Linked DNA regions of Homo sapiens: all the other regions are reported to be linked to region 2. The links are microRNA targets in miRTarBase. Many come from high-throughput screens and were not tested one by one. Region 2 holds a microRNA gene; each other region holds the end of a gene's coding sequence.
Evidence for each region. Region 2 holds the annotated microRNA hsa-miR-335-5p (UCAAGAGCAAUAACGAAAAAUGU, at 3,031-3,053, opposite strand). A microRNA usually pairs through its seed, bases 2 to 8, with sites in the 3' UTR of a target mRNA and lowers its output. Matches are read on the target gene's strand: a 7mer-m8 pairs with bases 2 to 8, a 7mer-A1 pairs with bases 2 to 7 and ends in A, and an 8mer does both.

Region 1: miRTarBase lists LMCD1 as a target of hsa-miR-335-5p. Seed matches in the 3' UTR shown: 7mer-A1 at 5,094-5,100.
Region 3: miRTarBase lists MFSD6L as a target of hsa-miR-335-5p. The part of its 3' UTR that is shown has no 7-base or 8-base seed match.
Region 4: the mRNA of TEX101 is a reported target of hsa-miR-335-5p. The part of its 3' UTR that is shown has no 7-base or 8-base seed match.
Region 5: the mRNA of SRL is a reported target of hsa-miR-335-5p. The part of its 3' UTR that is shown has no 7-base or 8-base seed match.
Region 6: miRTarBase lists RGS18 as a target of hsa-miR-335-5p. The part of its 3' UTR that is shown has no 7-base or 8-base seed match.

The regions. Positions count from the first base shown.
Region 1 is chr3:8,566,781-8,572,084 of GRCh38, forward strand. LMCD1 (LIM and cysteine rich domains 1) reads left to right here. Exons shown (of 6, transcript NM_014583.4): 6 at 660-5,304. The coding sequence ends at 818. LINC00312 (long intergenic non-protein coding RNA 312) reads left to right here and starts at 5,002. Exons shown (of 1, transcript NR_024065.3): 1 at 5,002-5,304.
Region 2 is chr7:130,493,875-130,499,178 of GRCh38, reverse strand. It overlaps MIR335 (microRNA 335), which reads right to left and starts at 3,068; the gene lies at 2,975-3,068. MEST (mesoderm specific transcript) reads right to left here. Exons shown (of 12, transcript NM_002402.4): 2 at 3,657-3,811; 3 at 1,944-2,023; 4 at 1,166-1,243; 5 at 904-1,040; 6 at 702-760.
Region 3 is chr17:8,792,644-8,797,947 of GRCh38, reverse strand. It overlaps MFSD6L (major facilitator superfamily domain containing 6 like), which reads left to right. Exons shown (of 1, transcript NM_152599.4): 1 at 1-838. The coding sequence ends at 588. Among named protein-coding and RNA genes, the nearest start is that of MFSD6L, 4.1 kb to the left of the region's middle.
Region 4 is chr19:43,417,378-43,422,681 of GRCh38, forward strand. TEX101 (testis expressed 101) reads left to right here. Exons shown (of 6, transcript NM_001130011.3): 5 at 501-629; 6 at 791-1,220. The coding sequence ends at 1,020. Among named protein-coding and RNA genes, the nearest start is that of TEX101, 5.1 kb to the left of the region's middle.
Region 5 is chr16:4,187,518-4,192,821 of GRCh38, forward strand. It overlaps SRL (sarcalumenin), which reads right to left. Exons shown (of 6, transcript NM_001098814.2): 6 at 1,857-5,304. The coding sequence ends at 4,636. Among named protein-coding and RNA genes, the nearest start is that of SRL, 52 kb to the right of the region's middle.
Region 6 is chr1:192,184,166-192,189,469 of GRCh38, reverse strand. RGS18 (regulator of G protein signaling 18) reads right to left here. Exons shown (of 5, transcript NM_130782.3): 5 at 3,655-5,173. The coding sequence ends at 4,916. Among named protein-coding and RNA genes, the nearest start is that of RGS18, 28 kb to the right of the region's middle.

The DNA of each region.
Region 1 (5,304 bases), not on the chromosome of region 2:
TCATATGTAGTTGGTCATTTGGCAATCATAGAACCTTGTGGGATGGAAAGTATTTATATCCCCATTTTACAGATGTGGAAGCTGAGGCACAGGGGGATTAAGTAATTTGCCCAAAGTCACAAAGCTGGTAGATGTCTTAAGTGAAAACTCATACCCAGTTCTTGTTTGACTCCAATACTAGAAGGCCCATTAAACATTATGCTCCTCTGCACTTCCTGAGCCTCAGGGGATCCTTACAATATGTCTATTCCAAGTGTCACTTCATTCCAAGCCCAAGTGACCCTCTGTATTCTTGCTCTTGATGATTGGCCATTGGCAGTTTATCTATCCTTAAGCTTTCTTCACCAGGGTGTGTAATCCCACCTTGGAACTAAACTTTAGATTTGACCCAAAGAGTATCACAGATACCTAGATAAGTAAAACCTGCCTGTAGTGGAGGATTTTTTTTATTCCGTCTGAGAAGCTAAGATGCAACCACAACCTTCACCAAATATTATCCTTACTGCCTCAAATTTATGCCAGATTTTTCCACTAAGGCTTTAAAAGGTCAAAACAAGAATAGGATGGGATGAACCACCACCCTATAACTTGTCCTAGATATACCGTCTCTACCTAGGGACAGAAACTGAGTCATGCATTTCTCCTGCTCCCCTCCCCAGATAATATTCGCTGAGGACTACCAGCGTGTGGAAGATCTGGCCTGGCACCGAAAGCACTTTGTCTGTGAGGGTTGTGAGCAGCTGCTGAGCGGCCGGGCGTACATCGTCACCAAGGGTCAGCTTCTGTGCCCAACTTGCAGCAAGTCCAAACGCTCCTGAAGGGCTGCCCACCCACAGCCAGAATCCACAGGATCCCACCGAGAAGGAGAGCCAGGTGTGCCGAGACCATCCTAAGGGTCCGATGTGACAGCAAGCAAGTGAAATAAACAATGATTTGCTTTTCAGTGAGAATATATATATGAGATATATATAGATATATATTCTAGGTTGGGTGGTGGTAGATCCTTGAGGGTCAGTAGTTTCAAAACCAAAAATATTCTAAGAAGTCTTAGGATGGAGTTCCTTTTCTTTCTGTTGTTGTTTCCCAGCTACAACCAACTAAAGACACAAATGGCGTTCTGCAAGGGGACTCTGGGAGGAGTTTTCCAGAATGCAATTCCGAGTGAGCAAATCGCATAGCTGTAGAATGTGCGTGCTTTTTTGTGGACACAGGAGCTCCTCCAGGAGCAGGCTGGGATCCCAACTATCGCTTGTTGCCTCTTTTTCAAGTGGAATTTGAATTTTAAATAAACAACTTTTTTTGGCATGATAAACAGATCAATAAAAGTTTTGTGAATTCCACATACACCCTTATCTAATTATTTACACCATGGCAGTGATTTTGCAACACCCAGTGCTGGCAGAAAATATAGTAAAATACTAATGAGCCTCTCTATCAATGTATCTCATCAGACTTCCACTGGGAGTGTAGGCTTTGGGACAGAACCCCCGCCCCACCTGCCTATTCCAGATACTCCCAGATCACTAATGTAACAAAGGTATCATGTTTTATGGTACACTGAAAAGTGGCCTGCTGGGAACTGATGAGCTTCTCTTTAGCCAGGGACCTGACTCAGCTGCCCTCAGAGCCCAGGAAAATAGCGAATGAACCCCTCTGGGAATAAGACCAGTACTGGGAAACCACTGAACAGGGGCCACCTAAGCTCCACCAATGGGTGCCACATGGGATGTGGTGACTAATGTGGGCAGATCTTTAAAAATACAGCACTTTTTCAAATGCCAAAACAATCAGAAACAAAATTTTTTCAATAAAAATTAATCTAAAATTTAACAATGCCACTTTTATGAGAAATCTCAATTTTTAATGTTGCCAACTAAACATTGAATGAGTCACGTAGAATAGGTCTTTGGGCCAAATTGTATCTCCATTTTATGGTCTCTCTGAACATTTTCAGCTCTTAAATTAATTTCTTTCCCACAGTTTCTAAGAAAAACATATTTTTCTACTGGGAGTATAAGGATGAAAAAGACACAAGTCCTAGGAGCTTACGGTCTGGTCGCCAGTGGTTTTCTTTCTTGAACTTCCTCATCTGCTGCCAGTTTTCTTTAACCTCACCATCCAAATTTCACTCTGACCATCTCGTACCTAGAAAACCCCCATTCATGTGCTTTATAAGTTTCACCAAAGCCATTGCTATATCCTCCCAAGGCAGTGGTTTTCTGCTCCCAGCTCCTTTCTCTAGTCACCCTCAGTTTCCTCGTCATGTTCATCTTCTCAAAGATAAGTTTCAAGTGTGTCATTTCCTTCACTCAATCTCCATGGCTCTTCATTGCCTGCCAAGTTAACAACCAAGTCCTCATGGACATTTGAATCCTTCCAAAACTTGGCTTATGTCTTTCTGGCCTTGGAGCCCTTTATTTCCCTAGATTTCTAGTTCCCTATTTCTTCCTAAGCATGCAGAAGCTCCCTCTGATCAAGCCCTTCCCTTTGCTTTTGCTAGTTGAAGACTGGCTACCTGAAGACCAACTCTGGCTGTTGAAATTCTATTCATCCTATAAGGTGCTTCTCAAGCATAACCTGCTTCTCTGGCACTTTCCTGAAGCACCAGTGAAATATTCACCAATTCATCATTCATTCATCCATTCCACAAGTATTTCAGTGAGCACGGCAAAGTTCCAATTCCCATGCTGAATATAGGGGATGCGGGGTGCACAAAAAGAACAGTGACCCCTACGCCCATAGATGTTACGGTCTGTGGGGGAGATGGGCCTCAAGCAAATATTCTCACAAGTCAATGCAAAATTACACTACTGTGCATGCTATAAAAGGAAGATTTGTGTTACTATAATGCATGTAAACTGGACTTAGGAATATCGAGAGAGGTGCCCCTGGGAAAGTGATGCTTGAACTGGGCTGTAAAGGATGAGTAGCCTTGCCAGGCATAGTGGCTCAGGCCTGTATTCTCAGCACTTTGGGAGGCCAAAGCGGGTGGATCACTTGAGCCTAGGAGTTCGAGACCGGCCTGGGCAACATGGCAAAACTCCACCCCTACAAAAAATACAAAAACTATCTGGCATGGTGGCACACCTGTAGTATCAGTTACTCTAGAGGATAACCTGAGCCCAGTAAGTCAAGGCTGCAGTGAGCTGTGATCATGCCACAGCACTCCAGCCTGGGTGACAGAGTGAGACCCTGTTTCCAAAAAAAAAAAAAAAGGATAGGTTGCCTCTAAGTTGGCAAAGAGAGGAAGGACAATGGTTAAAGATGGATACATGAATGCATGTGCAAAGGCCCTGTGGTGGAAGCCCCACCAGTTTATTCAACACCTATTTGCTGGTGTTGGAGATACAGTGGTGAACATGGCCCATGGATGGAACTGAAAGAAAACTGGTGTGGCAGGAGCACAGAGCATGGTGAGGAGGGTGGGCCTGGGGCATGAGAGGCAGGCATGGCCAGCCTGCTCCAGTTCTGGGGCAATTCAAAAGACTGGTCTCTGTTCTAGGAGCAAGGGGGAGCCTTCAAACAGCTTTAAGGAGGGGGTGGTGATGGCTGGACAGGGAGATCATGAGATACGTCATCTCTTCTCTGTTGAAACCCCAGCACAATGCATGATTGACTTGGTCCACTGGGTCACACCATCATGGATGGGCATTATCTCCCACAACAGTCCCCATGGGGCACCACCCAGCACCTGCCCCTGCCTTTCTCATGTCTATTAATGACACCCACCCTTGCATTTGGAGCACCTGAATCATCTCTGCCACTTGCCTTCATATCTGATGGGTCACTCAGTCCAGTCCTTTCTCTCCATCCTCGCTTTCACTCCATCCCCAAAGTCATATCTCACCTTGAACATTTTCTGCTCAGACTGACAAGTCTCCCCGACGGGAACTCACCCTCTCCACCCACCACTTCCAGATGAATTGCTCAGAAACACACCCTCATCTTGCACTCTCCTCTTCAAGAACAATCAGGGGCTCCCTGTTGCACACACAGAAAAAAATTGAAACTGTTTTACCTTGCAGTCGAGTTTCTTATTTTTCCTGCCCCAACCCTCCTTCCTTCCTGTTATCCTTTCAGAAGCCAAATGGGCAGTTTACAGTCACAGTGTGTGCCCCTGCTTTCCTCACCTCTGTACCATCACTCACGCTGTGCTTTTTGCCTGCAATTCCCCACACTGTGTTTAATTGCTGCCTCTGCTGGGGGGCTGCAATAGCTGAGTGGGATTCTGTACCAGAATTGGAAAGATCCATGTTAACTCTTGCCTGATTCTATCTCCCATGTCAGCAGGAAGAGGGGCTGCCATCCCCACCCCTCCCACTCTCTAGGAAGACTTTCCTCCCTCACCCTTCCCTTGGGGTGTTTTAGGTGCCCTTTATCTGTAAGTTCATAATATCCCAGGCTTACAGTAATTCTTCCAAGGCCTTTATTGTGCTATAATTATTTATTCATGAAAGCCTTCCCCTATGAACTTCTAAAGAATAATCGTATTATCTTTATTTCCCCAACTCTTAGTACAAATCCTGGCAACTAAATGAAAGAACAAACAACCTGGGGTTCTGGGATGGTTCGTCTTTGCTGATGGCACTGTGTTCCAAAATGGCCAAGGTCAAATATAAAAATTTCAGACTGAGGTAGACACTGCTGGCAGCCTACACATTGCCACCACACCCCACTTCCTTCTTCCTAGTGGCAAGGAAGCAGTGGGTGGAGAGGGTGAGTTCCTGTCAGGGAGACTTGTCAGTCTGAGCAGAAAATGTTCAAAGTGAGATATGACTTTGGGGATGGAGACAAAGGGAGGATGGAGAGAAACGACTGGACTGAGAGAAGAGCCCACTCCCCTTTATGTAAATTGGCTTTGCCAACCTGGTCTGCAGCTGGAGAAAGGCCATGCGCCTCTATTACCAGCCAGTGGGGCTTCCGCCTTAGGAGGGTCTTAGAAAAGTGTTTTTCCTTAATGAAAGGAGATACTGTGCAGTAAATAGCCCTGCTGTTGTTTTCTTTTCTTTTGATAGAATGTCAAACTTACGAAAAAAGTTACAAGAAGAGAACAAAGAGCTATTAGAGGGTGTTGCTGACACAATGCTTTATCACTCTTGAATATTTTCGTGTGTAATTCCTACAAATAAGGACATTCTCCCACATAGCCACAATACAACCATCAAAATCAGGAAGTTAACGCTGATGTGTTTCTACCATGTAATCCTCAGATCCAATTCAAGTGTCACCAGCTGTCCCAATAATGTCTTTTATAACAAAAACATTCAGTCTAAGATCACTCATTCTATTTAGTTATCTTGTCTA
Region 2 (5,304 bases):
TTTTCTAACTGAAACTTGGCACTGCCATCAGTTAGGAGTTGGGGAATCTCATACAGTTAAGTCCTCACTTAACATCAGGATAGGTTCTTGGAAACTTCGGCTTTAAGCAGAATGAGGTACAGCAGGTCCTTGAATAACATCCTTTCTTTAAAACATTGATGAGAAAAAAAATTGGTTCCATTATAACGTTTCATTTAAAGTCACAGTTTCCAAGAACCCATTGATGACATTAAGTAAGGATTTTCTACACTAACATCATAGTAGTATTAGAAACACTTGTGGCTTTTTTCTGTATCTTCAATCCTACACTCTCATAACCTATTGCAGTTGTTTCAGATATGGCAAACAGTCTTTACACTCCTCACTCCTTCTGATATAGCTGTTACTAGGTCCTCCACTAGAACTTGCTATCTAATGCATTGAAAAAGCACATGTGACTATAATGCAGCTTTTTATTGACTATGTAAGTAAAGTCACTATCCTTTGTAATGCTGTTTGTTTCTTTATTTTAAAACATTCTGAGAAAGGGTCCATAAATCTTGTCAGACCACCAAAGGAGTTGATGGCACAGAAGAGGTAGAGATCCCATAGTTTAATTATGTCTACTTGAAATATTATCAGATTACCATTTAGGTGCCGCTGTATCTAAAGATGGCCCTTCTAGATTACACCCACTTTCTACCTACCGCCAAGGCAATTACCTCCATTTGACAGACAGAGACTCTTTATGGTAAGCCGACCAGATCGATTCTGCTTGTACCTAGAAGGGAGACGAGGAAACACACATGTAGCTGAGCAAACTTAAACCAGTGCACCGCTGAAAACGAGAGAAAAAGGATACAAACAGTCCAGAAACAATGTACTTTCCTAGCATCATAAGCTGAAGTCTGAAGCTCCACTGACCTGTAGAGAAGCTCCTGAGCAACAATATCTCCATAGTCATGAGAAAGAAGGTTGATCCTGCGGTTCTGGAGCCCCAGATGCCGCAAAAGCGCTTCCACGATGCTGGCCTGCTCAAATATGGAATAGTGATGTGGTCTCTGAGGAAAGGAAAGCCCACATACACAGGATGAAGTCATGAGGACAGCTCTCTCTGCCAGCCTGACCCTCATAGTCTGCGTCTGCCCCCACACCCCATCACCAGCCCCACATAGGTGCTGCTTACCGGTTTGTCACTGAAGCCAAAGCCTAAGAAATCAAGGGCAATCACCCGATGAAACCTCAAGGTCAGACCTTCCCAAATCTACAAGAAAGAAACGATGATTTGGGCTTTCTGCTCCTGCCCCTCCCTTTCACCAGACCTACAGTTGCACAGGAGCTTCAGCCCTATCTTGGCTTAACAGACTTCCATAAAGAGAAAACGCCATGAAACTACCACAGGTCCCACAGATGATCCTCTTGGAAAATGCTTTATTCCTGGTAATTAATCCCTGTTGAGGGAGGGTAACTTGGCAGTGATCCCTTCCAGAGTGCCAAGGAGTTGTTTATTCCCTTCAGTAAATAAGGAACAGTTCAACATTTAATGTTTTTTTAAAAGCAATTCAAATGTGCAAGAGCCTTCTGGTGCTGACAACAAAATCCTTGAGGTTTTTTAAATTTTTATTAAAAAAAAATTTTTTTTTGAGACAGACTCTCGCTCTGTCACCTAGGCTGAAGTGCAGTGGTGCAATCTCAGCTCACTGCAACCTCTGCCTCCCGGGTTCAAGCGATTCTCCTGCCTCAGCCTCCCAAGTAGCTGGGATTACAGGCTTGTGCCACCATGCCTGGCCAATTTTTATACTTTTAGTAGAGATGGGGTTTTGCCATGTTGGCCTGGCTGGTCTCAAACTCCTGACCTCAGGTCATCCTCCCACCTCAGCCTCCCAAAGTGCTAGGATTTGAGCCCCCGCGCCCGGCCGAGATTTTTTAAGACATAGTAGGACGTAGAAGTCTGACTTCATTACCTTGTACCAGTCGTAGCTGGATGTTGGAAAACCGTGTAAAAGCACAACTATCTCTGGACTTCCAACCACACCCACAGAGTCTAGGAAGAAGGAAAGTACAATCAATTATGCCAAATCCCTATAAAAATAACCTCGAAGATGTTAAAATCTAAGTAATCTGATACAAAGAACAAGCAACTGTGACCAAATTGACATTAAAATGACACAATTATTTGTAAAATGTAAGCTTAACTGCGTTAGGTGAGAACAGGCCTTTTCTCCTTTCAATCTGTATATTAAAACATTGTAAAAATCATGCTATGTGAAAATACTTGAAGGCACCTTGTTTACTTTCACCTAGGTGTTTTTAAACAGCATCTCCCCATTTCTCCTTTTGTTCTGTAATATGCAAATTTTTTCAGTGAAAAGTAAATTTTCAGTTAAAAGCATATGATCACAACACATAAACTACAAATTCTTTGTACTTTATCATGAATGGCCTCACAGAAATTCTCTAAGATACAGCAACTATTCCCAAGGAACACCTTTAGCTTATGCTGTTTGCTCAGCACTTTTTATTCAGCAGGAGACCCAATCTAACATCAAAAACATAATAAAACTATTACAAAATCCTGTCAACTATAAAAAGGGCTTAATCAACATAAACATGAACTTTTTTAATGCATATGACAATATGGAAGCATTCAGCATCATCTAAATTAGGTAAACATTTAGACAATATTAACCTTGCTAATAGTATGGGATTAGAACAGGTATATTCATATACTGCCAGTGACATGAAAATTTGGTAATAAGGTTTTCAAAAATAATTTAGAAGCAGTTAAAAATTGTATATACTTTAGCCTAAGAGTTTTGTTCTTGAGAATCTGTGCAAATAAAATCATTCCATTTATACAAGTAGTATAGTTTGAAAATGTAAGGAAAAAATAAACTGTATGGACATGAAGCTTTTACTTCAACATTAGTTTTCTAAAACAGTAAAACTGGAAGTAACCCAAGCCAACATAATAAAAATTGTATACTTACTTAATTGAATATAGCAAATGAGAGGAGGTCAGGAGCAATAATGAAAAACGGTTTATGACAAACATTTTTCGTTATTGCTCTTGACCCCCGCTCAAAACAAATCATTTCCAATCTGTTTCTCAGTTTCTTCACCTATAAAATGAGGTTAATGGCACCTATCTCCAAATGCTGTTGTAAAGATTAAACAATGAAGGCTGAAAACATAACTCAGTGCCTGGCATATGGTAATTACTTGATAAGTAGTGGTCATAATAATCATCATCACTAGCAAATTAATTTATATAATGGTATCAAGACTTAAATCACAGTTACACTACAAATAATCTACAGAAAAAATGAAATCAGGGATGGTAAGGAGAGAGAACCAATGGTGGTTATATCTATTAATATTTTATATATTACCTGACAGGTTGCTCAAAAAAAAAAAAAAACTAATATTGGAATACATATCAAGCTACAAAGAAAACTTATACTAAAAGGTAAGGTCTGCAGGTTGGAATCTCAGTCCCTACCCCCATTCTCCCAGCAGTTTTCTGCGCTTCTCTGCAAGCACACTACACAGAAAGAGAGAGAGATACTCTCCTCCATCATTAAGGAGCAACAAGAGACCAATAGCCACAAAATAAATACCTCAGCTGGGACTTATGTGACCGATACACGCAGGACTTCCAATAGTCCACTTCTTACCTTGGTAGAAGATACGCAGTCCCTTGTAAGTGAAAAACTTGCCTGAAGACTTCCATGAGTGAAGGGCAGGGGAGAGCTGAGGGGGTGGGATGTGCAGGTACGCAGCAAGCAGGGGCACGGCCAGCAGCCCCACCTGGACCCACCACTCCCTCATCCTGTAGGAAAAGCAGAGACCCACTGTAAGCAGTCAGGTAACATTGTCCACTCATCTACAAACCAAAACCTGGTAAGATGGGGTGGGAGATTGCTGTTACCATGCAATGATTACATTGCCCTTCACATAGGCACAAAGCTGACCGAGACTATAATCAAACCTCTGTCTGCCATAGCACTCACCATATTTGTTCATCATTCTAATCTTAAGGAAAAAAAATACATTATTTCAACATATAATCTTCTGCCTCTGCTCCCCGACTTTAACCCCTTAGCCCCTACCCTTGTGGTCTTCCCAATACCTGCTGAAGAGGACTTTATATAAATAAAAGGGACATGACTTAAATGCTGGACACTCTTTCGTTGACTTTTATCAAGGCTTCCCAGGAAAAAAATAACTTCTTTCTTATTTACTCCAAAAGCTCTACCATCTACCCACTACCCCCAACCAGTAAAATGTTCAAAAAATATATATGTGCTATATCTCATGTTTTAAAGAGTGTGTGTGTGTAGTAACTTATCACATGTCCTCAAGCAGAGAGCTACTCCTGATTTTCAGCCCTCCTGCCTAAATGAAGCCCCATTTAGTACTCCTTTCTGGATTTGGGCTGAGAAACTGCTCAGGGTAAACAGTCTGTGAAAGTAAGATAGCTGCACTGTGTATTCCAACATAAGCAGCTTTGTCATGACCCTGAATATCTAATCTCTTGAGAGGTCAAGGCGGTAGATTACATTTCTGCTTTTCTTAGCAGACTCTTTAAGTTTCCATTTAATTTCCTAAGATGCTCCCCCACCCCCAGATAAGGCATAACTCATACCCAGCGTGTGAGAATTGATTTTGTCTTTGGAAAAAGAGCACTGGTTGGTACACCCAACCCTCCCATGCCCAGGACTTCAAAGGCACAAGTCAGTTTATCCACATTGACAAGGAGTGCCAAACAGGAATTATAAACCGTTCTGTTTCAAGTCTATGACTTCTGATGGTCAACAGATCAAGAATTGTCAGTAGAATGGAAGTTCTCTCAAAACAGCCAGAATGGAAATAATACCCTCCAAAACTAAAATTAGAGTTGTCATAGAGCTGAAATAAATTAATTGCTAAAGCCCTGGGGGAAATGGCTTTCCGTCTGTACACACATTCTTCCCTATTGCCTGTAATCTACCTACCCGTTCGCTAACTTCCTCAACTTACAAGATACTTTTCCCCCCCATATCCCTGATACTTTTTGCTAAAATCTAAAAACAAGCCTGTGGTTTTACAGTGGTAAAATAACCATGTTTCTTAAACAATGTCAGCTCCCCAGGCTATTTTTTAGGCATTATTAGGGCAGTCATTTCTTTTTTTCTCCAAAGTACCTGTCCATAAGACGGATAGAACCATTTGGTCCTACTTCTCAAGGTAATACTAGAAATGGTTCAAAAAAGTGCCAGAACATGATGGTTATATCACAGTTTTCACCCAACAATAGCAGGCTGTATCCCAGTATCTCCTTGA
Region 3 (5,304 bases), not on the chromosome of region 2:
CACATGAAGGACCATGGGAGCGGCGAGCTGGTCATGGGTTTCTCGGTCGCCCTCAGCTTGCTGGGGGAAATTCTGCTTCATCCGTTCAAAGCTACATTGCTTAGGAAACTGTCCAGGACGGGCCTGGTGGGGCTGGGGCTGAGCTGCCTCGCTGGGCAGCTGCTGTACTACTCTTTCCTCTGGAGCTGGTGGTCCGTCCTCCCCATTCAGATCTTGAGTGCCATTAGCAACAGAGCTTTGTGGTGGGCTGTGGGGGCCTCAGTAGAGGACCTGGCCACTCCCCGCATGGAGAGGGCTCTGAGTGCCTTGTTCCGAGGCCACTTTTACGGGAGTGGCTGTAGCCTGGGCAGCTTTGTCGGGGGCTTCGTGGTGATGCGCTTCAGCCTGGCTGTGCTCTACCAGGCCTGCTGTGTGGCCCTGTTGCTCTGGTTGGCCTTGCTCCTGTCCATACAGCGGAGGCTGCCCCGAGAGCGGAAAATCAAGTACTCGAAGCTGCTGTCCATGGAGGTGAGTGACACCAGTGACTCTGAGCAGGGGACAGAACAGGACTGGCTTGTGAAGGCCATGAGGGAGGAACACTCAGACTGAAAGGGCTGAGAAATCCAGAGTGTGCTGATCCAGCAAGGAACGAATGGACTGAACAAAACTCAGCCTGCTGAGGACAGAAACCTGCCCTGGACTGCTGGGAGCCGGGGAAGAGAGGATGGGTCTGTGCTGAAGGCCCAACAGGATCATCTCATTGCATGATTTTCTTTACTTTTGAAGTAAAAGGAGATTTAACTTTTTGCCAATCTTTTTTAGATAATGGAGGAAGAATACATTTGCTTTTTAAAAAGTTCCCTCTATAGTCACTATATGTTTACGTTTAAGGTTTGCAAAAGTCCTGACTCAGGTGCTGTTGAATTCAGCAATGGCTGAAGCGATCAAATCAAACTGTCAGTGCCAGGAAGACCATGGGGACCTGCAGGATTCAGTTGGCAGAGAGGGCAGCTGACTTGGATGAATCATGGCATTCCCAGGGGTCATAAAGGCATTAGCCTGCTTCTGTGAAAGCCATGCTGTGGGCAGGTAAGAATGGTAATGGAGGACCGGGCGTGGTGGGTCATGCCTGTAATCCCAGCACTTTGGGAGGACGAGGCGGGTGGATCATGAGGTCAAAAGATCGAGACCATCCTGGCCAACATGGTGAAACCCCGTCTCTACTAAAGACACAAAAATTAGCTGGGCGTGGTGGCGCGCACCTGTAGTCCCAGCTACTCAGGAGGTTGAGGAAAGAGAATCACTTGAACCCTGGAGGTGGAGGTTGCAGTGAGCTGAGATCATGCCACTGCACTCCAGCCTGGTGACAGAGCAAGACTCCATCTCAAAAAAAGGATGGTAATGAAAACAAACTCCTTTCTGTTCCCACTGGTATACAGGTGCCCACACTCACACCCAAGTACTTCCAACAGGAGAAAATAATGGGAAATGTATGTGTGTTGGGGGGGAAGTGGGAGGTTAATAGGTTTCATTCTTACCTTCTCACACATGTGTGTCCCACTTAGAATCATCATCTATATTTACATCAGAGCAGGGGCAATTTCATGTCTTTTGAACTCACATTTTGCATGCTCTGCCTCACAAAGCACATGGAGATTTTAACATCTGTTTTATTGGGGTGCAGACATCTCCATAGGTCAGGGTGCTATAGGTTCTCCATGCTGTACCTGTGCCCAGGCACTTGGTGGGGTTTTGGGAGTGACAAACTAGTGCTTCTGCCTTCCCAAACTCCCCCAGGGGAAGGGCCTGGAATAAAGGGCCATTTATTTCAGAGGCCAGTCCCAGGGCCCAATTCTTCGACCTTATCATTAGTTAAACATAGGATATTGAATTTAGAAGAAGCCTCACTGCACAAATGCAGAAAACGTCTCACAGCTGGAGAAGGGGAAGCAGATATATGAATGTCCACTGGGTCAGACATGGTTCTAGGATCTTTATTTGTTGTTGTTGTTGTTTGTTTTTTTGTTTTGTTTTGTTTTGTTTTGAGACAGAGTCTCACTCTGTCGCCAGGCTGGAGTGCAGTGGCGCCATCTCGGCTCACTGCAACCTCCAAGTCCCTGGTTCAAGCGATTCTCCTGCCTCAGCCTGCCAAGTAGCTGGGATTACAGGCGTGCACCACCACACCCAGCTATTTTTTGTGTGTGTGTGTTTTTAGTAAAGATGAGGTTTCACCATGTCGACCAGGATGGTCTCGATTTCCTGACCTCGTGATCTGCCCGCCTCAGCCTCCCAAAGTGCTGGGATTATAGGCGTGAGCCACTGCACCTGGCCCTTTATTTGTTTTTTAATTCTCCCTAAGAAGTTTAAGGTACAAATAATCAACAAAAAAATTACCTCCACCCTAAACAATAGAGATTTGTCTCATATATATATAAAACATTTAGGGGTGGGCAGCCCAGAGATGCTGCCACTGCTGGATGATGCCACTAGGGATCTAGAATCTTTTCATCTCCTCACACTGTCATACTCAGCCTGTAAGCTACCCTCCCAGATTTGTACCCTCATAGGAACAAGATGGCTGCTGCTCTGCCAAGCCTTTCATCCATGTTCCAGGCAGTAAGAAAAGGGGAAGACAATAGGGCAAAGGGAGAAACAGGAACAAGTGTCTGTATCAAGAAAATAGGCTGCACGGTGGGTGGCTCACGCCTATAATCCCAGCACTTTGGGAGGCCGAGGCAGGAGGATTGCTTGAGCCCAGGAGTTGGAGACCAGCCTGGGAAACATGGTGAGACCTTGTCTCTTAAAAAAAAATAATAATTAGCCAGGTATGGGGTGTGCATCTGTAGTCTCAGCTACTCATGAGGCTGAGGTGGGAGGATAGCTTGAGCCCAGGAGTTTAAGACTGCAGTGAGTTGTTTGTGCCAATGCACTCCAGCCTGGGTTACAGAGCAAGACCCTGTTTCCAAACAAACAAACAAACAAACAAACAAGAAAAAGGAAAGATAAGCCTTCCCAGAAACTCCTCAGCAGAGAGAACCGTGTCACATGGCCACCCAGCTGCAAGGAAGTCTGGGAGGAAGTATTTTCAACTAGGCACAGTTACACACCAAGCAAAATCAGGGTTGCGTTAGGAAGAGGGGGCTGGATATAGAATTGGCAACTAACGACATCTGCAGCGGCCTCCACGATGGAACTCACAGCCGGGTCCAGCTTATTGCAAAGCCTGCATTCCTTTCACCCCACTAAGCCAGCTTCCCCGACAGAAATGACTTTAGTAATGTGACCCCCACAACTACTCTATGAATAAATCAAATTTGTTATCTGCATTTTACAAATGAGAAAGTGTAGTCTCAGAAGTCACACACTGGGTCACTGGCAGAAATACTACCAGAGTCCTGGATTTCCTTACTCCAAATTTGGGGCATTTTCTTCTGTGCCGGTAGTCTGGCTGTCGATCCAAGTAGGAGGAGCATTTGCAAAAAGCCAGGTTCCTGGGTTCCACCAGAATCTCACAGGTGGGGCTCAGTAATCTGCATTTTTGGAGCAATCTCCGAGTGATTCTGATGTGGTTAACCAAGCACTGTTTACTCGGTTGTCCTTTCCAGCTCTATTTGTCTCAACAGTTCTTTGCCAAATGTTTCCATTTGCAGTGAAACAAATAACAACTATTGAGTGGTCACTCTAGGCCAGGCACTGTTCTAAACAAGGTACGTGGTGTACGCGTACTAGCTCATCAAGTAATCATAGGACGTAGTCACCATTAGCATCTCCAGTTTCAGATGGCAGAACCGAAGGTTCAGTAACTTGCCTGAGGTCACGCAGCTAGTAAGTGGCAGAGTTGGTATTCAGATCCAGCCTGGTGGTTCCTGGGCCTGAGATTTTAATCACTGTGCTCTATGCTGGAGAAATTGAGGGGAAAGAGGGGGGGGATTAAATATTAAGATCTAAGGTAGCCATCACTTGAAATTGACTGGATAGTAGATAATATTTACTATTTCAACAGAACATACAATAATACCAAAAAGCAAACACATGTATGTCCTCTTAAACAAAAGGATGAGGAACAGGAACTGGCTTAAGAAAAGAGTTAAGTAAGTGTGATCTAGCCTGAACAAGAGGAAGAAGGAAGAGAAAAAGAAGCGTGAGTTGGGGGGAGGGGGTGTACAGGACAAGACCGAAGACTGAGGGAGGTGATGATTGATGGATCTAAAAGATTTTAAGGGAAGGATGGGAGGCCAAGATGTTCATTTGGGCTATTTAGTTAATGTTTGACTTTATGTTTTCTTTAATGTATGAAGCCCCTTTTTCCAAAGGGGAAAAAAAAAGTTGTGCTACTTGCCATGGGGAATTCAAGGATGAATAAAATGCACAGTCCACACCCTCAAGAAGCTAACAGTCTAACTAGAAGATTTACTTACACACACACACAAACACACAAACACACACACAACACACACACACACACGGAAGCACAGGACAGTGTGGGAGATGCTGCAGAAAAAGTATTACTAGAGTTTAAGAAAGAGAACATTTCTGACTCAATAACTCAAATAAGGTTTTGTGGAGATTATATTTAAGTCTAAGTCTTCAAGGATAGGTAAAGTTTATTTATTTATTTATTTTTACTTTTGTTTTATTTATTTATTTTTTTTCTGAGATGGAGTCTTGCTTTGTCGCCCAGGCTGGAGTGCAGTGGCACAATCTTGGCTCACTGCAAGCTCCGCCTCCCGGGTTCACGCCATTCTCCTGCCTCAGCCTCCTGAACAGCTGGGACTACAGGCGCCCGCCACCATGCCCGGCTAATTTTTTGTATTTTTAGTAGAGACGGGGTTTCACCGTGTTAGCCAGGATGGTCTCGATCTCCTGACCTAGTGATCCGCCCACCTCGGCCTCCCAAAGTGCTGGGATTACAGGCGCGAGCCACTGCGCCCGGCCTAGGGTAGGTAAACTTTTAACAGGTAAAGTGAGGGTGGTAACCTAGGAGAGGGCATTCTATGACTATATAAACAAAGCTGCAGAGGTGGAAAAAGCATGAAGAATACTTGGAGGGTAGCAAGACATACAGTTTGGCTAAAGCGAAGGATTTGTGTAGGATGGTGCTTAAATGCAAGGCTGGAAAGACAGATGGGACCAGGTCATGAAAGGCCTTGATCCTGTAGACTTTGGATAAGCCATGGAGGGCTCTGGTCAGGGTCATAAGAGGCCACACTGAGCTTTTTTTTTTTAAGTAGCTTTATTGAGGTATTAACATATAATAAACTGCACATATTCAAACACCGGTGAAATGCCTCCTGCCCTTTATAATCCCTCCTCCGTAGCGTGCTC
Region 4 (5,304 bases), not on the chromosome of region 2:
CTCACAATTCCCTGAATCCACCAAGCTGGCTCACACCACCTGACCTTTGTCCTTGCTGTTTCCTTTACTACCCTCCCCACCCCATTTTCACATAGCTAACCCCTGTTCATCCTCCATGTCAATTCAGGTATCAGCTCTTTGAAAATATTTGCCAAATTCTTTTAGGTAGTTGGGTATTCCTCCATTCCTTTGTCATTATACCTTGAACACAGCAGCTACTGAATTGATTACTTACATGTCTTTCTCCTAGGCAGAGATGCCAGGTGACAGGAACTATGTCCTTTTCATCTCTGTATCTTCACACCTCAGCAGAGTTTGGAAGTCAGATCGATGGAGATTTCACAGCAGAGAACACCAGCTGGGGAAGGATGGGGAGGCTGAAGTAATGGGCCTTGATTAGAGTGGCATCTGCAGGAAAATCTTGGGGAAGAGAAGGCAGCAAGGAGCAACATCTCTGGAGGCAGGACCTGCCCTTAACTGTCTCTCTCATTTCCCTCCAGCTTCCACTGTGTCAACAACCCTCCATTGTCCAACCTGTGTGGCTTTGGGGACCTGTTTCAGTGCTCCTTCTCTTCCCTGTCCCAATGGTACAACTCGATGCTATCAAGGAAAACTTGAGATCACTGGAGGTAAACTGAAATGAACATCTGATAGTTTCAGAGGCTGGAAAACCATTTGAGTGGCTCCCCAGAGATTCTGACACTGAGCTCTCCAGGGATGAGGGGGGACTGGATTCTCCTCTGATGTCCTAAAACATCTCTGTCTCTCCCGATCCTTCCTTGTTCTATAGGTGGCATTGAGTCGTCTGTGGAGGTCAAAGGCTGTACAGCCATGATTGGCTGCAGGCTGATGTCTGGAATCTTAGCAGTAGGACCCATGTTTGTGAGGGAAGCGTGCCCACATCAGCTGCTCACTCAACCTCGAAAGACTGAAAATGGGGCCACCTGTCTTCCCATTCCTGTTTGGGGGTTACAGCTACTGCTGCCATTGCTGCTGCCATCATTTATTCACTTTTCCTAAGAAGGCACTTCTGGGCCTGGGTCTGAGGACATCTTTTTTGACTGGGAGCCTTCTTACTGTTGAGGTTCAACAAGCTGAGGAGTAGATGGGAATTTGAGGGAGAATACAGAGATACTATGAACGTATTTGACATTTTTAATACAATTTCTGCTATAATTTTTGTATGCAGTAGGCGTTACTAATAAACATTTCTGCTGTGATTTGTGTATGTTTCAACACTAGAAGTGGAATTTTAGTGCTGAAAGAGCCTTTAAAATTCATCTTCTCCAAACCACACATTCTCCAGAAAGAGAATCTGAGATCTGGAAAATTTCAGTGAGTTTCTTACATTTAGCTATGGCCAGAGCCAAGGCAAGAACTTACATATTTTGACGTAAAGTCTGATTTTCCTTTCACTCTAATATGCTAGCTCTCCTTGCTAGCAGAAGTAACTAGCATTAGCCTCCTCCAGAACACTCCCAGCCCAATCTTAAGGCTGCTGTTTTGGGGTTCTAAAATTTCCCTAGGAAGTATGGCCAAATGAGAAAAATCAGACTCCAAATTCTCCAGTTATGGGCCTGCTGTAGTGGCTTATACCTGTAATCCCAGCACTTTGAGAGGCAGAGGTGGGAGGATTGCATGAGCCAAGGAGTTTGAGACCAGCCTGGGCAACCTAATGAGACTACATCTCTACAAAAAAAAATAATCCAAAAATTAGCCTGGCATGGTGGCGCTCGCCTGTAGTCCCAGCTACTTGGGAGGCTGAAGTGGGATGATCACTTATGTCCACAAAAAGAGTCAAACTCTGTAAAATATTTGAAAAGATTTATTCTGAACCAAATGTGAGTGACCGTGGTGTGTGACACAGCCCTCAGGAGACCCTGAAAACGTGCCTAAGGTGGTCGGGGCACAGCCTAGTTTTATACCGTTTAGGAAGACATGAGGCAATCAAATACATGTAAGATGTACATTGTTTCAGTCCAGAAAGGCAGGACAACTCCAAGTGGAGGAAACTTCCAGGTTATAGGTAGATTCAAAAATTTTCTGATTGGCCATTGGTTAAAAGAGTTATTATCTAAAGACCTGGAATCAGTAGAAAGGAATGTCTGGGTTACGATGATAAGGGATTGTGGAAACCAAAGTTTTATTACACAAATGAAGCCACCATGTCGCAGGCTTCAGAGAGAATACATTGTAAATGTTTATCAGACTTAAGGTCTGTGTTGATGTTCATGCTGGTCAGCTTTTCCCAAAATCCAAAAGGGAGGCGGGTATATTGAGGCATGGCCGACTCTCCCTTCCCACAGCATGGCCTGAACCAGTTTTTCAGGTTAACTTTGGAAAGCCCTGGCTGAGAGGAGGGGACCCTTCAGATGGTTGGGGGCGGGGAGTGGCTTATAATTTTATTTTTTGTCTGCACTTGAGCTCAGGAGGTTGAGGCTGCAGTGAGCCATGATCATGCCTCTGTACTTCAGACTGGATGACAGAGTGAGATCCTCTATCAAAACAAAAGGCAAATTCTCTCATTACAGTGGGCCCCATTTCTCTGTGTCCTGTCTATCCCTTGCCTGCTCTACATCATTCCTTCCCTTCCCTGGGGCTGACTTAATGACTCTTCAGTGGACTTGGGAGGGAGGGAGGAAGGATTCATTACAGTATGGTGAATGGGGACCTGTGACTACTTGGGCGGCAAAGATTTTTGGAAAATTCTCATGCTTATTATTACTCAAAAATACATAAGCTCTATCTTATTGTAAAAGACTCAAATGATATCAGAGGTGTATAGAGCAAAGTAAAAGGTGGGGAGGGTAAAAGGGAGACAGATATTTTCTTCTAAAAAAAAAAAAAAAAACAGCTTTACTAAGACTTATCTGACACACAGTAAACGGCACCAGAGGTGGAAGGAGAGACTTTTATTACAAACACTTGTTCCCCTCTCAAAAGACTGGGGAGTTTGGCCATAGTATATATATTCCAACCAAGTTCTTTCTAGAAAGTTCTCTGGTTCTACCCACTGAGAAAGGGAAAAAAAAAATCTTGGGATACCAAACTCACTATGCTAAAGGGAAAAGTCAGGCTTGGGAATGGAGTCACACCAAACTGCCCCTTATTTTGTTCCTAAATATGTAGCTGCAAAGATTTAGAAGTCTACACACCTCCCCAGCAGGCCTTGCTCACAATTTGGCCACAAGGAAATTCCTTGTGGGCCCCAAGATCTTTACCCTAAAACAGTTCTGCTTGAGTTTCACCCTGGCAATGTAATTAACAGTTTATCTTCACAGGTACTGGACAAGACAGGACCAGAAGTCATCCCTCTGCTCACCTGAGACAAATGCCTATTTCACTCTTTCCTCTACTAGATGTTTAGTTTATTTTATGTAAAAATGCAAATCTGGCCAGACACGGTGGCTCACCCCTGTAATCCCAACACTTTGGGAGGCCAAGGCGGGCAGATCACGAGCTCAGGAGTTTGAGACCAGCCTGGCCAACATGGTAAAACCCCATCTCTACTAAAAATACAAAAATTTACCAGGTGTGGTGGCAGATGCCTGTAATCCCAGCTATTCAGGAGGCTGAGGTGGAGAATCACTTGAACCCAGAAGGCAGAGATTGCAGTGAGCTGAGATCCGGCCATCGCACTCCAGCCTGGGTGACAAGAGCAAAACTCCGTCTCAAAAAAAAAAATGCAAATTCACTGAGGGCAAGATGATTGCATAGTTGACTATTCCTCTACCCTCTCCTTTCACATGTAAAATGTAGATTCACTGAAAGCTGATCAAAGCCTCAAAAGAATGCAACCACTTTCCCTTTTTATTTACTCTCCTCCTTTTTTTCTTTCCTCTTTCTCCTATTGCCCACTCCTTTCCCCACTTTAAATATTGAAGTCCCCAGGCCGGGTGTGGTGGCTCATGCTTGTAATCCCAGCACTTTGGGAGGTCGAGGCAGGTGGATCACCTGAGGTCGGAGTTCAAGACCAGCCTGGCCAACATGGTGAAACCCCGTCTCTACTAAAAATATAAAAAATTAGCTAGGCATGGTGGCGGATGCCTGTAATCCCAGCTACTCGGGAGGCTGAGGCAGGAGAACTGCTTGAACCTGGGAGGCAGAGGTTGCAGTGAGCCGAGATCATGCCACTGCACTCCAGCCTGGCAACAAAAGTGAAACTTTCTCTCAAAAAAAAAAAAAAAAAAAAAAAATTGAAGTTCCCAAATCCTCTTTGGAAAAAGCACAGATCACAGATGTTCCTGTGGTTTTGTGTTTCTTTTTCCTGGGCATGTCCTAAACCTTAGCAAAAGAAACTAAAATAATTAAGACTCACCTCAATCATTTTTTTTTTATTTATACCACTCTCCTGCAGTTTAAGCGCTACTCTAGCTAATTCCTTATCTTTGTCCTTAGGTAGCCAGTCCCCATTGTGTCAGTTTGCTAAATCTCCCTAAAGAGGAAGAAGAAGCACACGAAAATCAAATTTTAACTGAGGGCCAGGTGCAGTGGCCCACACCTATAGTGCCAGCACTTTGGGAGGCCAAGGCGAGTGGATTACTTGAGCTCAGGAGTTTGAGACCAGCCTGGGCAACATAGTGAAACCCCGTCTCTACAAAAAATACAAAAATTAACTGGGCATGGTAGTGTGTGCCTGTACATAGTCACAGCTATTTGGGAGGCTGAGACAAGAGGATGGCTTGACCCAGGGAGGTGGACAGTTTGCTGAGGTCACGCCACTGCACTCCTCCTCCCTAGATGATAGAGCATGACCCTGTCTCAGAGACAGAGAGAAAGAAAAAGGAAGAAAGGAAGAAAAAGAAAGAGAGAAAGAAAGGAAGGAAGGAAGGAAGGAAGGAAAGAAAGAAAGAGAAAGAAAGAAAGAAAAGAAAAGAGAGGAAAGAAAGAGAAAGAAAAGGAAGGAGTGACAATGCCAAATTCTGGAGAGGAATTGAGAAACTAGATCTCTCATATATTGCTGTAAGAATGTGAAATGGTGCACCCACTCTGGAAAATAGTTTGGCCATTTATTTAAAAACTAAACACACACTTACCATCTACCCAGCAGTCATACTGCTGAGCGTTCATCCACAAGAAATGGAAACTTAAGTCAACACAAAATCATGTATGTGCTTGTTCTTAGCAGCTTTATTTGTAATAGCCCAAAATGAAAACAACCAAAATGTCTTACAGTAGGTGAATGTTAAACTCCACAATAGAAAGAAACAAACTATTTATACACACAGAAACTTGGCTGGATCTCAATGGCATTATGCTGAGTGGAAAAAAGTCCATCTCAAAGGTCATATATGTACTATATGA
Region 5 (5,304 bases), not on the chromosome of region 2:
TCTATGTTTATCCTGGTCCCGGATTGTGCTTTCTCCGTTTTCTGTTTCTGTTTCTCTATCATCTTAATGGCAGACAATGTGAAGATGGTGAGGCTTGTGAAACAGTACAATTTTGAGGCAGATTCTGGCATATTACTTAACATTTATCTTTAAAACAGTCCTCCTTCTTCCAGGCAAGAGCTCTGGATTTCTCCCGGGAAAGGGTGGAAGAGGGACGCAGGGTTGGGTGGGTGAACAGGAGTGGCCTTAGTTGGGTCATGTTGCTCAGTTGCTCAAAGACCAAGGACTGCAGACTCTCCCTTTCTCCCCAGGGCCCAGTTTTTTCCCTTTCAAAACCCGCTGTCTACCTGCAAGATGGCTCACATCTCTAATCCCAACACTTTGGGAGGCTGAGGCAGGAGGATGGAATAAGGCCAGGAGTTTGAGACCAGCCTGGGCAACATAATGAAACCTCATCCCTACAAAAAAAAAAAAATGTTTTTTTCAATTAGTCAGACATGGTGGCATGTGCTTGTAGTCCCAGCTACTCAGAAGGCTGAAGCAGGAGGATTGCTTGAGCCCAGGAGGTTAAGGCTGCAATGAACTATGATCGCGCTACTACACTCCAGCCTGGGTGCCAGAGCGAGACTCCGTCTCAAAAAAAAAAAATGGGTAGATGTGGTGGCTCAAGCCTGTAATCCCAGCACTTTGGGAGGCCGAGGCAGGCGGATCACTTGAGGTGAGGAGTACAAGATCAGCCTGGCCAACATGGTGAAACCCTATCTCTACCAAAAATACAAAAATGAGCCAAGCATGGTGTTATGTGCCTGTAGTCCCAGCTACTCAGGAGGCTGAGGCAGGAGAATCGCTTGAACCCGGGAGGCGGAGGTTGCAGTGAGCTGAGATGGCGCCACTGCACTCTAGCCTGGGCAACAATGCGAGACTCCATCTCAGAAAAAAAAAAAAAAAAAAATCGAAAACAACAGAAAACCAGCCGGGTGCAGTGACTCATGCCTGTAATCCCAGCACTTTGGGAGGCCAAGATGGGCAGATCACGAGGTCAGGAGATCGAGACCATCCTGGCTAACGCAGTGAAACCCCGTCTCTACTAAAAATACAAAAAATTAGCCGGGCGTGGTGGCGGGCGCCTGTAGTCCCAGCTACTCGAAAGGCTAAGGCAGGAGAGTGGCGTGAACCTAGGGGGCGGAGCTTGTAGTGAGCCGAGATTGCGCCACTGCACTCCAGCCTGGGCGACAGAGCGAGACTCCGTCTCAAAAAAAAAAAAAAAGAAAAAGAAAAGAAAACAACAAAAAACCTGTTCTCAAGCAAGATGTGAAACTCCTTCGAAGACCCCAGAAGTAAAACATAAAAATTAAACGACCTCTGCTCTGAAGAGGATACTAGAAACAGGAAAATGTGATAGAAAGGGCTCAGGGAGTCAAGGACGCGTTCAGGTTTCTCTAAAGACAGGTCCAAGCGGGAGGCTCACGTCCACACTTCGTGGAGGAGGAGAACACTTTCTGGTGAAGCCAAGGGGAGGTGGCAGCCTTACCATTCAGGAAACCTTTGTGCCCTCCTCCACTGGAGCCCTCAGTTATCTAAGGCAGCTGCGTGGATGCCCAGGGGAATGAGGCATTGAGGTGCTGAGGAGAGAGCAGTTCTTTAAGTTTCAGAGGACACCACGCCTTCCTGGGCGGCTGAGAGAGCAACTCAGCCTCAGTCCCAAAAAAGGTCCTGGGGCATCCAGCTAACACAAGGGTGGGCAATTTCTTAATTTCCAGTCTCTCCCCAAGGAACTTACACATGAGTTAACTCTACCAGATAAAAGGAGGATGAAGAGAGTAACCTAGCTGGAGACCATGAGAAAGCACGCGGTGTTAAAGAGAGATCGGAACTTTATTGAGACTGATGAAATCAGAACCAAAAGAACACTGGAAAGGTTCTGCCACTGTCCAGGCACAGATCCTTCCAGACACTCCTCTTGGGGGAATCTCTGGATCATTAAGTTTCCCCCAGTTCCTAATCCCCCACCCCAAAGAGTCAGAATTCTGCTTAAAGCCCCCTCCACGGAGCTGGCCAGAAACCAGACACTGAGTATCTGTACTGACTGATGGGCAGGCCTGTGAGCAGCAGAGACAAGAGAAATCAGAGAAGGAACACGAAAAGGAAAACATGACGGAAAGAAAAGCCCAAGGCAGGGAGAGCATGCTGATAACGCAGCCCCCTGAAAATATAAATATTGCATGAATGTATTAGCCTCATCCCAGCCATTTCCCCCAAAGCAGTGGTGACACCAACAGCTATGACAATGCCCACACAGTTGTGCATCTTTTTTTGTTTTTCCCCTGACTACACAGAAAAACAGATCTGCCAAAGCAGCTCACAGCATGGAGGAGCAGGCAGGGGAAAGTGGGAGGGCCCATCCCCCAAGAGGGCAGACAGTACAGAGATGAGGCGAGGGGTTCTGGGGTTTGCGGAGGGTGGTTAATGAGAAGAAAAGTCCAGGACAGATTCCATCTCATCAGCCCCTATCACAGGCTCCGTGGATGCCCCTTGCAGAACTCACTGTTCTTTCCTGGTCGACTCGTTCCTTGGAAACATTGTCCTGAGTGCCCTGGAACCTCGGGTGTTCTTGTGGAAGGGTCCAGGCCCTCCACAAAGCCAAACGCAACGGCCCCTGTGACAGCATGCACCAGAGTGATAACAATTCTGAGAACCGGGAATTCCTAACTCGAGGTTCTCCTCATAGACCTAACCTGACTGCCAACTGGCTTACCCTGCCTGACCTCAGAGTGCCTCTCCCTCTGCCTGCCTTTCCACTGTCCTGGGTCCAGGATGACTTCCTGGTGCTGAGCTGGTGCATCCTGACTCCTGCCTCGTGGGTAAGGCCCCCAGGACAGCTTGTTCCCAAGAGAAGCGGCTGGCTGTGTACAAAGGAGCCCCTCGAGGCAGCCCGGGCTGGGTCTCCTGGGCATGCACAGACTGTGCACCATGCACATTTCACCATCCAAAGGCTGCTTCTTCCCTGCAGGTCCTGCCCCTCTGCTCCCCACCACCTGCTGTGGAGCCGTGCATGCTAGCCTTGCAAGACTGTTACAAGTTCTCTACTCCCTAGAGTCTATGTGATCTCCCTAATCTCTCTTGGACAACATACACACATATTCACACTTATTGGTATTGAAGGCCCTGGCTTTCCTGCGGTGTGTTCAGTGGACATCTGCATCAAGGTCAGGCGGGAAGGTCAATGTTAAGCCTTGGTGGCCACCGACACCGAGTGGCTGGTGCTGGTTCTGACTCCTAGGAAATTGCTCCAAGTAAGTGTTGATGCATCAGGGAATGGAGAAGAAAGGAAAGGAAAAGCCATGGTGTGGAAACTGCAAAGGAGCAACTCCGCTGCCAAGTGTTTCCACAGGGGAGTTGTGGAAACAGCCTCCTCTGAAATTTGAGAGACTGGCGGCCTAAGGAAAAGGAGCAAGGTCTCCACTGTCCTCTCTGAAACCCAGCGCCTTTGGGATCTGAGTTTTCCAAGACATGCAATAGACAAAGACGCACTGCAAACCAATTAACCCTCTGAGCCCTTCCACGACCTTCACTACAGTCACTTCCAAGAGTAAATTACCTGGATACACCAACCAGTCCCCTCCTGGGTCCGATGAAGGGATCGAGCCCTCGAGCCAGCTTTGAGGAACACATCAGAGAAGTGGCAGTGGGGGAGGCAGATCCTTGTCCTTCCTGGGAACTCCTGTTCTTAGTTGTCGAGTGTCCTAAACCACTGCCCCACCCCTTGAGGAAACCAGGAGCAAGTCCGGGGGATTGGCTCAAAACCCAGGTGGAGGCCGGGTGCGGCAGCTCATGCCTGTAATCCCAGCACTTTGGGAGGCCGAGGCGGGTGGATCACTTGAGGTCAGGAGTTCGAGGCCAGCCTGGGCAACATGGTGAAGTCCCGTTTCTACTAAAAATACAAAAATTGGCTGGGCATGGTGGTAGGCCTATAATCTCAGCTACTCAGGAGGCTGAGGCAGGAGAATCGCTTGAACCCAGGAGGGGGAGGTTGCAGTGAGCTGAGATTGCACCACTGCACTCCAACCTGGCCGACAGAGCGAGACTCCGTCTCAAAAACACAAAAACAAACCCAGGTATATTCAGACCCAAGAGACTATTCACTGTTGAAAGTCAACCCAAAGTTAAGAGGCAGCCGAGGGCTGGGGAACAAACGCGAGACTGTGGGTGTGGAAAGAAGCCAAAATGGACCTGACAATCTCTACGACTCAGGCCTTCGCTGTTTTCCCAGCTCACAGGGAACAAAGGAATTTCAGCTGCTTTTAGCTTATTTGACCCTCACTGATTTAAGATACACTAGAATTTAGCTGCTCTCTGTCCTTCCAAGACAGGACCCAGGAAAAGCAGGTGGAGGCTGACTTGCCTCAATCAGGCCTCCTCATTGAAGCAACAAGACAAGCACACAGGAATTCACAGTTTCCACTCTCCTCCCTAGACCCACACACCTGCCCCGACCCCTGGCCTCAATGAACTCCCAACTCTCCACTGTGTAATAATTCCTGCCAGTGTGGCTCAAAGGGTTAATAAACCAGGACCTCTCAGACAGTTAGGACACAAGCTGATTCACCAACAGGAACCCAAGGACCGCTCCACCACCTAGTGCTTCCTGTAGCGATTTTTTGGTGTTTCGCTACACCCTGTTTTGTCACAGTTGAGAGCACCTGGATTCTTCCCGAGCCCGAGGCTACCCAGGAGGCCCGGAAGCTCCTGAGTGATGGCCCGCTCAATCTTCTCCAGAAAGCAACCTCCCATGTAGGAGCACTGCTGGGAGAGCAGTTTGAAACTGGAAATGGGATTGATGCCGAAGAAGTCCTTATAGGCCTCGCGGTTGGGAAGGTCAAATTTGCTGACATTGGTCTTTGCCAGGATGGTCTTGAAGATGTAGAATTTATCGGGATCTTCCACAATGTCCTTAAAGACCAGTTCTCCATCACTGAAGAAGGTCATTTTGTCCTTGTAAGTCTGCAGGTAGCGGTCAACCAGGAGGGCGTGGATGCGGACCCGGATGGCGTGCTGGCGGATGAAGGCAATCTTGTTCTCCAGTCTGTTCTCGATCACCTGATTCAGGTCTTCTAGGAGGGAGATCTCTTCTTGGAGGAACAGTTCCTGATGGGTGTCCGGCTTATACTCTTGTGGCCAGAAGGAGCTGACGTAAACCCTTGGGGGCTCTGTGACATTGATGAGAGGGGCCAAGCTCCAGAAGAGGGCCCCGTAAACCCGCATGAGCATTTGGGTGGCCAGATTGTCAGCCTTGTTCAGGATGAT
Region 6 (5,304 bases), not on the chromosome of region 2:
TATGATCTTTTGGTTGATACTCATTTATCAGTATCTCTTAACATTCTTTCACAATTCTATCAAAAATTTACTTCCAAAGCCTCTATGTTAAATAATTTTCTATTAATGTAACTTGAATACATTTCTGGGAGCTTGCATTCTAATGTGAGTGATGCTCATTTATGAGATCAATTCCGGTTTCTAGAGATTGAGATTTTAAAGCAGATTTCAGTATGAATATAGCAATTTAATACCTAATCCTATATTATAAAATATACTCAGACATATTGTGAAGGCACAGCAACATGACTCTGCTGTTTAGCTACGTTGCATGAAATTGTCTTGCCATTTTTTAGACACAAGGAAGTCAAGATATATTATATATCAATGTTTCACATGTCATAGTGAAATGACTGATTTTTGTGTTTGCCTACATAGGAACACCGTTCATTTAAATACTACAGTGATAGCCTTTACATTATTTTATTTGTCTTTGTATCACTACTGTTCCATATAGTGACTGGGACAGAGGTGAAGCATGGCAAACATTTGTTGAACTACAGGAGTCTATGATTAAATAACGATAAATGAAGTATAAGATATTCCAAACTATGGATTATTAAATACATTTATTCCTGCTATCATTGATACTGATTTGATCTCACTTGGATTCATGTTTCAATATTTCAGTTTCTTTACATGTAACAACAGTTCCATGTTGAAAAAATGATTGTTGGGTTTTACATGTTGATGGCAATCTTTCCAAATGTTTTTTATTCACTTTCTTGCTCTAGTAAATTGCATCCAATAAAAAGAATTTTGACACTTTTTAGTGGATCAACATTTAACAATGATTCAGTCTTCATTTTTCCCACAATTTTATGTTTTTTACAGATAGATAACACAATAAAAAATAATAAGACTGTAGACAAACTATTTAAAATTTAATACTGTTGTTTTAGCAAATGTCTGACGTTTAAAATAGTTGCTTTGCTTATTACTTCTAAAAGGTTCATTTCTACTCTATAAAATTTAGTAGGTAAGATTCCAGGTAAATGTATATGTTTACTATTAAATAATTATGTCTAAAAACACAGCTGAATCTGATTTTTAAAAAAATTTTCCAAATGTAATATTTTACTACCTGTGCTGCTAAATTTGTATTGTTTCCCAAGTGATTTAATTTTGTAAATGTTTCTTAAAACTTGTGTTTTTTCATCTTCAAAGGACCCTTCTATAATTGGTTGATTTATAGAGCAAAACCAATAAAATGACCAAAAAATTCAAACCCATAATAAAATGTATTTATATATACATATACTTTCAGTTCCTCTTTTGTTTTATAAAAGATGCACAAAGATATGCAAGTTAGTGAATCTTTTGTATTGTCCTTAAATAAATGAGGAAATTAGTTACTTAACTCCTAGCTTCAAAAGATAAATGGTAATCTGCACGATTGGTCGTAGAAGGATTTGTTATTTGGGATACATACGAAGAAAAGTTTAAAACATGGCTTTCAGCTGCGTATTGCAGAATGCAAGCTTTATCAGACAATATACTATGAAGAGAGTTTTTCTTTCTCTCTCTTTCCCTGTCACTCCCACTGTTAAATTCACTTTTGAATGCTCAGAAGCTAGCAGTAGCAATCAAATGAAAGTGTTCAATAAATACTTGTTGATTTATTCAAGTTATAGAACATGAGTTTTGATAAGTTGTACGAATTTTTATTTTTATTGTTGAAAAGGCTTCAAATGATATAGCTAAATGAACGTGGTTACATCTGTGTTGGTAATTTTTTTCTTTTTTAGACAGATGATAAAGAGCCAGGAAATTAAATATAAGACCAGCCAATGTGGCACAATGAAAATAAATTAGTCTTTTTAAATTTAGTTAATGCCATAGCTAAGGCTTAGCATCTGATGAGGTGGGGCGGGGAGAGTATACATCTTCACCATGCTTTGTCTTTTTTTTCCTCTTAAAGAAGATCTGCACTGCACATAACTAAAAAGTTAAGGGTTTTTTTTTAAAAGCTTTTTCTTTAGAAAAATGCTTATGCTTAAAATGTTCCCATATTTTAATTTAGCTAAAATATCATTTTTTATGAAGTGCAAATTATAAAAGTTTTGATGAGAGCAATAGTCATCCCCATACTTTAGTCAAGCAAAATCTCATTATTCTCAAAGATATTTTTTGATTTGTAACCAAGGCATTATTAGAAAAATTTATATTATAATTAAAATGTGGTACTTAAACACAGGGAATACTTTCTAAAATCCATCCACACACTAAAGTCAGTTAACACTGTAGCTGGCACTTTGCAAATATTTACAATTTAATCACCATAAGAACACTGTGAAAATTTTATTCCAATATTACAAATAAAAATTGAAGATAAGAATTTAGGTAGCTTTCTCAACATAGTACACTTGGTAGCTAGTAGAGATAGAATTCAAATAAAAATGCACCACATATTAAAGACTTTACTCTTTGCTGAAATACTACTCTGACTTCCTTTTGATTTCACTTGACTTTGCAATCACTTATTGAACTTTTATTATGTACATAACTTGAAGCCTAGGTATTTACTATTGCTTATGGGCTTCAAAAAGTGCCCCAAATTATCTAATTCAACCCAACTTTATTTATCATCCAGTACTTTAAAGACATTGTTATCATACATTTGACTGGTCAAAAAAAAAATCAAGCTCTATTTCCTGTGACTTCTTTCCTTTCATGTATTTCTGGGTTTTCTATAATCTTGTGCCCTATTCTTAGACAAAAATCCCATATTAATTTTTAATCTTAAGTTTTCCTTCATTAATTATACTTATTTGCCTCTTTTCCTTACTTGGATACAAGTCAAGGTTTGCTTCGGAGAATATCAAGTGAACAAATTAGAATTAATGAGTGTGGAGACCATAAAGAACACTAGAAAGTAGAAATCCTGAGTCTTTATCTTAAAACGAACGTGGATGGAAGAGTCCTTAGAAGTTATATAAACTTTTGAGGATCCCACATCCAGTTAGGGGGCTCGCACACTGAGGCTTTCAAGTCTAGTTTCAATTTGTGCGTTTTGCCATCATTCAGCCAACACTCAGTGCTTTCTGTGCATCTGTGCTTGGCTGCTTTCAGTTGTCCAATTATTTATCTTGTTTCTGTATTTGTCCATGTTGTCTCCTCCAGAGAGTGCAAACTTTTTGAAGTCAGTCATTAATTTTATGAAGAAATCCTGGTATGTTTTTGAAGCATCTCATTGAATATTTCATAATTTAATGAAGAGATTGGATGATTTTGGACAGTATTACATACGGAAAAGCTACATGATACATATTTGTGGTACCAGAACAATGCTATTAAAATCAGCCCATGATGTTTCTGATGAGATTGCAAAGTTTGTGTCGAGTCTTAAGTCTGTATATGAAACAATTAAATTCTATGGAAAGAGACTGCCACAGAAAAAGAAAATAGGAATTAACTAAGGAAAACATAAAAATCACCTTTTTAGTTGATTTTTGAAACCCAAGATACTTTGTTTTTATATTCACAACAATTTAAACAACTGATATAGCATTAAGATCAATGATACAATAACTCAATTAATACTTTCTATCCCAATATTACTCTAAAAGAAGAAAATGTTTATTCCTTATTACATAATAGGAAGGATAATCAACATTCAGTCAGAGCTTTTATTGTCAGATAAACTTAACTGTATGAATGAAGTTAAAAATATTTATTACTACAAATGATCTAAAGTTTTCACATTTTACATTTCAACTAACATTAAATTTCCAAAGCCTAATGCATGGCATTTTTAAATACAAATATTTACAGACCATGTAACACACATTAAAAATTAAATATCTCTTTAAAACAGTGACATATAGATGTATGAGTATAATCTTATTTGAATAATAATTACTTAAGGAGATTTGCTTAACAAGAATATAATCAATGAGATAACACTTTCTGAATATGAACCAATGTGGCAGATGCCCAAATCGCTAGGGCCTTAGACTCCTTGCTTCTTCCCCTCATCTCATTTCTGATTTCTACCCCAATTCTAAAGGGCCAAACATGAGACGTCCTGGGAAAAACCTTCTCTGGTTTTTATTCAAGCCATTGATGGCCTAATAGTTTAGTAGCAAGTTTTCTTAGCCGGTGATAAGGTAGTCTACTTAGTTCCCTACCTGGAGATATGCAAAATCTGGTCATGTTTCTGTGACCAACAGAAGTACTTTGTATAACTGGGTACGTCCATGTTCACTTAGGAATGAGTTCAAATGTGGATCTTATTCTCAGTCATTAATCTAGATTATATTTAATCTGAAGTTCTGTAGAGATGAATGTGTCTTCACAAAAGTTCCTGTTGCTGGCTTATAACTAGAGGTGATATTACTATTCTTGGGACAGGGTTAGTAGTAACCCAATAATAAATGTTCTTCATCTCCCATTGTAAGAACCAGATCACTTCTACACTATTACCAAAAAAAAGAGAACATTCATTATGAAAAATGCTATCTGAACATTTGGATATCTGAGTATTATTATGTTTATATAACACATATTATGCTGCTTTGGTAAAAAATCCCAACTAGACTTTTGTTTGAACTTTTGACAACTTTGCAAAAGCTTAACTTTTACTTAACTCTACAATCTTATAAAACATTATTACTTTTTTTGTACTGCCTTTTGATTAAGAAATAAGTTTTTTTTCTGATTATAAATGGAATGACATCAAATAGAAGGTTTTACAGAATATACTGGCAGATACTGTATGTATTTTGTTAGCAGAAAGTTTTGTTTTTACATTTTTAAAATAATTTCACATGACATATTTCAGTTTAAAGGATGGGACCAAATCTTAACATAAACATGCGATATGTTAGAAGCAGATGTATAAGTTTGTCATAAAAATGAGCAAAATCAATTTTCTTTATAACCAAATGGCAACATCTGATTGTACATCTTGGAATTCATTGCAGGTAAATGAGCGTGATCGTCTCCTAAGATTTGTTGGTCTCTGAGGTCTTCCTTCCATCAAGTCTAAATAGATGTCAGATTTCAGAAAACGTGTATAACTGTCTTGTTCCATGAGCTGATACACTCTGCTTTGTGCAGCATCAAAACTGTGGAGGGTAGGTTGAGTGATGCTGTTTGTAATGACTTCTTTTGTGTGAAAATCAAGGTTAACCTGGATAAACAGAAAAAAAGTGTGATTATAGTTAATATGCTTATATAAACAACTTTGAGAAACAGCACAGGACTGATGCAATGTTGGAGTGGGCATCTTGGGCTTAGAAGCAGATATAGTTTGGATGTGTG